Homo sapiens: one gene and its partner. The protein of the gene in region 1 purifies or fractionates together with the protein of each later gene. This does not show direct contact. Each region holds a gene or a part of one and is shown on either strand. Other genes may lie near its edges.

Region 1 (3,500 bases):
AGTTTCGCTCTTACCGCCCAGGCTGGAGTGCAGTGGTGCGATCTCAGGTCACTGCAACCACCCCGTCCCGGGTTCAAGCAATTCTCCTGCCTCAGCCTCCCAAGTAGCTGGAATTACAGGCATGTGCCACCACACCCAGCTAATTTTTGTATTTTTAGTAGAGATGGGGTTTCACCATGTTAGCCAGGCTGGTCTCAAACTCCTGAAGTGATCCACCCGCCTCAGCCTCCCAAAGTACTGGGATTACAGGCGTGAGCCACCGCGCCTGGACTAGCCCAGGGTTTTCAAACCCACTCATGAAATCAAGTTCGTGAGTCACAAAAAGCGTTTTGTTTTTCCGAGACAGAGTCTTGCTCTGTCGCCCAGGCTGGAGTGCAGTGGTATGATCTTGGATTACTGCAACCTCTGCCTCCCGGGTTCAAGTGATTCTCCAGCCTCAGCTTCCTGAGTAGCTGGGATTACAGGTGTGTGCCACCATGCCCAGCAAGTTTTTGTATTTTTAGTAGAGTATTTTTAGGTTTCACCATGTTGGCCAGGATGGTCCCGAACTCCTGACTTCGTGATCCGTCCGCCTCAGCCTCCCAAAGTGCTGGGATTACATGTGTAAGCCACTGCGCCCGGCCGCGTTTTGTTCTTTTAAATGAATTAGTGGAGAACAGAAACTCTCAGAATGTTGCACGTGATATGCAGAGGTAACAGTCTGTCTGTGTTCTGGGTATTAGCAAAACAGGCACTCTCACTGGGGTTGCGTTTGGGAGTCCAAGCGCCACTGTGAGGCCAACCCTGGTATCAGCTGTGTACCCTGAGGCTCCCCGGCACGTCATAAAGGGCACTCAATAAGCACTGCCTGGGCCAGCAGAGGGCACCGGGCACAAAGCACCACTCAGGGACCACCCTGATCAGAGGACCTGGTTCTTCCCCAGACCAGGCCTGCCCAGCCAGCAGGAGGCAGAAGCAGGAGACACTCACCAGCTTTCCTGCTGCGGCCTCCTGGCTCTACAGGACGATCAGCAGGAGCACAGTCCGGGGCTCCTCTCCACCTTGTGGCCTGGACTTCCTTTCCCACCTGGCCCCCATCCCCTGGGCTGTCCCTGGCTCTTCCCTCCCACTCATCTGCTTTCTTTCCTCAACTTTGCTTCCTCCCACCCGTCTAGCCCTCTCCTTAACTCTTCATTCTCCCTTTTCCTTTCTTTCCCTGCCTGCCACCTCCTTTTCCAGGACACACACACATAAATATTTTTCAGACAATTCAGCCTTTATTTTAGAAAATAATTCTGTAGCTTCCACTTTCTTTCATGAAACTGAGGTCAGGCAAGAAACAAAAATCCACCAAGTCCTCTCCATCCTGCCATGGCGTCCTGGCCTGTGAGGACATGGGGCGCCTGGGAGCGGGCGGGGAGGCTGGGCAGCACTGGGCCAGAGGCGTCCTGGTCACTGCTCCACCTGGTCACTGCTCCACCTCATGCTGAGAGGAGCCTGTGTGTCAAACCCCAGGGGAAAAAGGGACAGGCAGATCGAATTCTGTCTTCTACCAAGCCAGCAGGAGCCTCCTAGAGCAACAGGGAGGGCACTGATTTTCAGAAAGGAGGGGTCAGGGCATAGTCCCTCTCTGAGGTAAGGCAAGAGAGAGGTTGTCCCAGCACAAGGCCTTCCTCCCTGCACCTCTCTCCTGACAGCTGGGCATGGGCTGAGGAGAGGTCTTGCTTGCCCCCTTCAACTTTCCATCTCAGAACTATAAACTGCTAGGCTGCAAGGAGAGAAGGGCTAAGTGGGGGTCAGACAGGAGAGAAGGGCAGGAGGCAGTGAGCCCCGATGACCCACCAACTCCACCAGGCCCTGACAAGGAAGCCCCTTTGGTTAGTATCATTTTGGCCACAAATATGTCCCCTTCTCCCATAACTCAGTCCCCACTGGGGGAAGGGGAGCAGGTATAGAAGGAGGGCTCGTGCCCTGGCTGGAAGAGCCAGGTCAGGGAGAAGGGGTCTGGTCAAGAGAGCGAACGTTGCCAAACTCTCTGCACATGCTCCAGGAGAAAGCTCAGGACGTGGACATTTCTGGCCCCAACAAGCCCAGTGCCCCCCACCACACAGTGGTTTCCTGCTTAATACCCCGCAACATACCCTAGAATAGTTCCCCTGATCTGACTCCCTTGAGAACGGGAGAATAATCCTCTTGTTATCATTTGTGCACTTAAATGCCACTCGGAAAAATCAAAAAGATAAATGCACCTAAGAGGGAAACACAGGCAGGCCGATGCAGCCTGGGGACTGTGGTCCCACCTCAGCTCATGATGTGGCAAGGAGGGGCCCAGGAAGGACAGGCAGGTGCTAATTCCAGCTAGGATCATAGCCCTCCCACGTCAGTGGGGGCGCCAGGTGGACACGGCGGCCCCGGAACTGGAAGGTGACAATACCCCGGTAGCCAGCTCTCGGAACCCCCGACTTAAGGTCATCCATGACACCCAGAGCCTTGGCGAAAGCCTTGAAGCTGTCCCTGCCCGTATACTGCACCCGCACCTCCCCCAGCTCCTTCCGGTCATTGGTCCTCACTTTCTCCACCTGCAGCTGGGGAGCACCGTAGACGCGGGCGAGGAAATCTCGGTCATAGGCCTCCCGCTGCAGGTAAGACAGGTCCAGCTGGGTGAAGTGCACAAACTGCTGGTTCAGCTTGATAAACTTGAGGTGCTGGTCAAAGAACTGCCCGTGGCTCACACCCTTGCGGCCAAAGGTCATCGTTCTTGAGATCTCAGGGCGTATGCAGGCCCGCCCCTGCCGCTGCTCCGGCCGCCGCATCCAGTCGTCCCAGAAGGCCTTTGGCCACTTGGGCTCCAGCTCAGCCCAGAGCTCGGCCAACAGCAGCCAGCCCAGGCCAGGGAAAAAGTCGGTGCGGTAGAGCAGCTCAGGCCTGCTGGCGTCCACCATCTGCTCCTTGCCGTTGTCATTCCAGGCCGAGACGCACCACAGGGAGGGGTCGGCCTTCAGCAGCGGATAGGTGGCCCGAAAGTACTCGAAGAAGTCCGGGGCCACCTCCAGGTCATCCTCCACCACCACGGCCGCGGGGAAGCGAAACTGCCGGAAGACCTGGCCCAGCGCCCAGCGGTAGTGGCGCGCGATCTTGTAGTAGCCCTGGAACTTGCGGTGGTCCGGCGGCACCGCAATGCTGCTCAGGTCGGGCTGCCGGATGTGCGTGACCGCGCTGCCGTAGGAGGCGATGGCCTGGGCCGTCTCCTCGTGCCCGCAGTCCTGGCTAACGATGATGGGGAAGAGCTCAGCCGAGGGCCGATAATGCAGCAGCTTGTCCAGGCAGCGCCGAACAGTGCTGCGGTCACAGGCGATGACCAGGATGGGAATCACCGCCGGCGCGGGGGTCACAGGCACACGCGGCTGGGCGGGAGGGGCCGCGGTGGGCACCCTCCCCCGCTGGCTCGACAGGGCATCCCCGATCTGCTGCAGCAGCCCACGCTGCCGCTCCAGCTCCACCTCGGCGTCTTGGGCCAGGCG
Region 2 (3,500 bases), on another chromosome or scaffold:
CTGCTCCGTGGAATGAATGAATGAACAGCCTGGTAGGGTTGGGAGGACACAGAAGCAGTGACAACACAGAATGTGACAGGGAAGGCCAGGGGCCTGGGGTTGCCCGGCGCTGGGTGGGGAGGGGAGTCAGGGAAGCCTTCCTGGAGGTGGTGCCCATGTTGCTGACTTTGGACCTCTGTGAGATCAGCACTGAATGAGCTGAGAGAGGAGTAGCTCCTCTCCAAAGGTAGCTGGCAAGGAGGAGAGCTTGGGCAGACCCCAGGACCAGTGGACTCCACAGGCCTCTCACTTCCCACCAACCCACACCATCTCTCCATCTGTGACATTCTGCTTTCAGGGCATGAGGAAGGCGGAAAGGCAGGTGGGGAGGAAGTGTGGGCTGCTGGTCTGACAGGCTCAGCTCTTCCCAGGCTTGTGACCAAATCTCCTGCAGAAAAGGATAAACAGGCCTGCTTTGAGTTCTTTTATCTTCTTGCTCCCAAGGCACACCAGCAAGCAGAGGGGGTCTTCCAGCGTTAATCCTGCAGCTGTTTAGCTTTTGAACGAGTGGACTCTTTAAAAAAAATGCCACGAAGAATGTCTCACTCTCTCACCCAGGAGGCTCAAAGAGAAACTTCTCTCCCACTGACAAGGGAGCTGGAACCCCCAAGTGTCTTAAAGAAGCTCACCCCAGGGGCAGTCTGAAATCAGGGGACCCCTCATGCTGCCTCGATTTGTTGCTGGCTGTGGGGCCTTGAGGACACCCTTATATTTTGCTTGGCTTCTGCCCATTTTGTAAAATGGGGTCAGGGTAATAAATCCCTTCTTTCCTTAGAAAGGCGTGTGGCAGGAGAGTTTCAGAGGTGGGAAGGGCAGCAGTGGGCATCCAAGCCCATGGCTTTCAAACTTTGTTTCACATTAGAATCATCTGGGAAACTTTTAAAAGTCCTGCAGGCCCCACAATCTCTGGGGCATGACCCAGGCATCAGTAGTTGATGAAGCTCCCCTGGTGATTTCAGTTTGAGAGCCACCTGGCTGCCCTCTGCAGCCTACCTCCCACAGTGTCCCAAGACAATACTTGCACATCCCCAGGACAAGGAGCTCATTCCTTCCGAGGCTGCTTCCTCCCCCCAGGACCTTCCTGCCTGGAGAGATGAGGGGAGTGGGAAGACTTGGTAATCCAGTTAACCTGGGTTCCAGCATGCAGCTGCTCCCTGCGTGTCTTCTCGGAGCCTCAGTTTCCTCATCTGAAAAATGACAATAACGATCTCTCTGAAAGGGCCACAGAGGCCAGACGAGGCCACACATGGCAAGCACCCACCCCATACCTGACGCCGGGCTGGACTGAGACCCTGAACTCCCTGCCCCAGCCACCTGAGGCCAGGTCTCTGAGACTGGCGCTGGTTAGGGTGGGATCAACACCCAGCCCGGGGGCCCTTCCCACTGTCCCCTTTCTCTCTAAGAGATAAGACAAGGCAGTAAGCATTTTGTTTTGCTCAGTTTTGCTTTAATGGTCAAAGTGTCAGACTCTCCTTAACAATGAAGCCTTGTCTGAATCTGCTTGTTTTTCCAACCCGGACACCCAACTGCACCACCTGCTTGGGGCCCCTGTCCCACCTGGGAGAACTGAAGAATGTCAGAGGATTTTTTTTTTTAATCTAGGGGAGGGTGTCCAGGGAACATTGGAGGCCTCTGTGCAAATCCTCACCGATAATTGACCCCACTTAAGTCATCCAACTCTGCTGTGATTGTGAGCCAGTTCACTAAAATTATTTCAAGGTAGTTACTAGGTGTTGAGCTAAACCCCTATCAGTGCCAGTGAGGATGGCACCAGGCTCAAGAGGCCAAAGAGGAGACCCAGAGCCAGCGAATGAGCCATGGGGTTTTACTACGGGCTCACACACAGGGGAGAGAGTCCAGTGGCTGCTGGCTGGACCGAAGAACCACAACCACTCGCAGGAAGTGTGCAGTTTTTTTGTTTTTGGTTTTGGTTTTGGTTTTTTTTTTTGAGACAGAGTTTCGTTCTTATTGCCCAGGCTGGAGTGCAATGGCGCGATCTTCACTCACTGCAGCCTCCGCCTCCCAGGTTCAAGCGATTCTCCTGCCTCAGCCTCCCAAGTAGCTGGGATTACAGGCAAGTGCCACCACACGCAGCTAATTTTGTATTTTTAGTAGAGATGGAGTTTCGCTATGTTGGTTAGGCTGGTCTCAAACTCCTGACTTCAGGTGATCCGCCTGCCTCAGCCTCCCAAAGTGCTGGGATTATAGCTGTGAGCTACCGCCCCCCAGCCTAAAAGCTTGCAATTTCTATAGCATTTTCACTTAGCACCTCCCCCAACAACTTCCACCTAGCAACCTCCATTTACCCCAAACCACAGACCTCAATCCTCTGTTTGGCCCGCAAGTTCCATAGGATGGGCCAAGAGCTCAGATGTTCCTCATAGATAAGGAGTGGATCTCCGGGTTGGCTACTCCCAGATTCCTTAGCTTAGAACCAAACTGCATTGAGGTGCGCCTGCCATACAAGGTCATTCTCAGGGCTTGCTCAAGTCCAGGTATCACTGTCCAACGTGTCTACCATACAGAAGACAGAAAACTTATGTTGATCCTGGCTTTGTCACTTACTGGCAGGATGACCCTGGAAGAATCATTTTATCTCTTTGAGCACGAGTTGTTTCTCCTATAAAATGCATTTGTAGGAAGGACTTCCTGGGATTACCTGAGAAGCAAATAAAATTACTGGTATGTGGAGCACAGTGCCTACCGTAAACTAAGCACTCAAGAGCTGTTGGTGCATGCACTTGCTGGGGAGCTGACCCCTGCCTCCTGCCCCTTCCTTCACTGGCTGGTCCACGCTCCCTGTCTCCCAGTCTGCTCCCCTTGCCCCACCAGGCCCAGGCTGAGACAGAGGACAGAGGAGGCCTGCACATGTAATCATGGGCATCCCTTCAAACTGCTCTTCTTTAAGACCAGAGGAGGCTCTGAGGACTGGACAGAGGAAGACTACAAAAGGGGCCATCAGTGGCAGTGCTTGGTCTCCTTGCCTGGGCACAGCCAGAGAGGGTACATCAACCCAGAGTGACTGGCTCAGGCATTAGGCGTGTGACAAATCAACACGGGATAGTGCAGCACCGAGGGACTAGCAGTGGCTGGGAGCAGTTACCACTCAGGGCTGAAGGAGCAAGGGAAGTGGGCAGCTATAGGGATAGGGGCTGTGGGCCATCAGTACAGGGACCCAGTCAACCCAGGAGACCTCACAGGGGATAAACTTCAACTATCTTTCCTCTTTCCTTCAGTCCCCCATTTATGCTTCCTGTTGGGTGTACCTCTCTGAAAGCCAGCAGCATGGAGCCCATTACATTCCACAGAGGTCAGTTCCCAGGGCCCCAAACAAGGTAGAGAGTGGCTCTGGAGAAGCAAACCAAAGACACTTCCTCACTCTGTCCATCAAAAGCCCGGGAGTCCACTGAATACACTGTCCTTAGGACACAGTTTAAAGATCATCTGTTTTTACCATACCC

The links. Proteins that work in one complex are often made in the same cells at the same time.
Region 2: the proteins of MGAT1 (region 1) and GDPD5 purify together in Homo sapiens (co-immunoprecipitation; one large-scale study listed by IntAct). This does not show direct contact.

Annotation. Positions count from the first base shown.
Region 1 is NC_000005.10:180,789,307-180,792,806, forward strand, and holds part of MGAT1 (alpha-1,3-mannosyl-glycoprotein 2-beta-N-acetylglucosaminyltransferase), read right to left. Parts: coding exon 2,328-3,500; 3' UTR 1-2,327. UniProt on the Homo sapiens protein: Initiates complex N-linked carbohydrate formation. Essential for the conversion of high-mannose to hybrid and complex N-glycans.
Region 2 is NC_000011.10:75,515,942-75,519,441, reverse strand, and holds part of GDPD5 (glycerophosphodiester phosphodiesterase domain-containing protein 5), read left to right. Parts: exon of another isoform or gene 1-427; intron 428-1,168; exon of another isoform or gene 1,169-1,226; intron 1,227-2,015; exon of another isoform or gene 2,016-3,500. UniProt on the Homo sapiens protein: Glycerophosphodiester phosphodiesterase that promotes neurite formation and drives spinal motor neuron differentiation.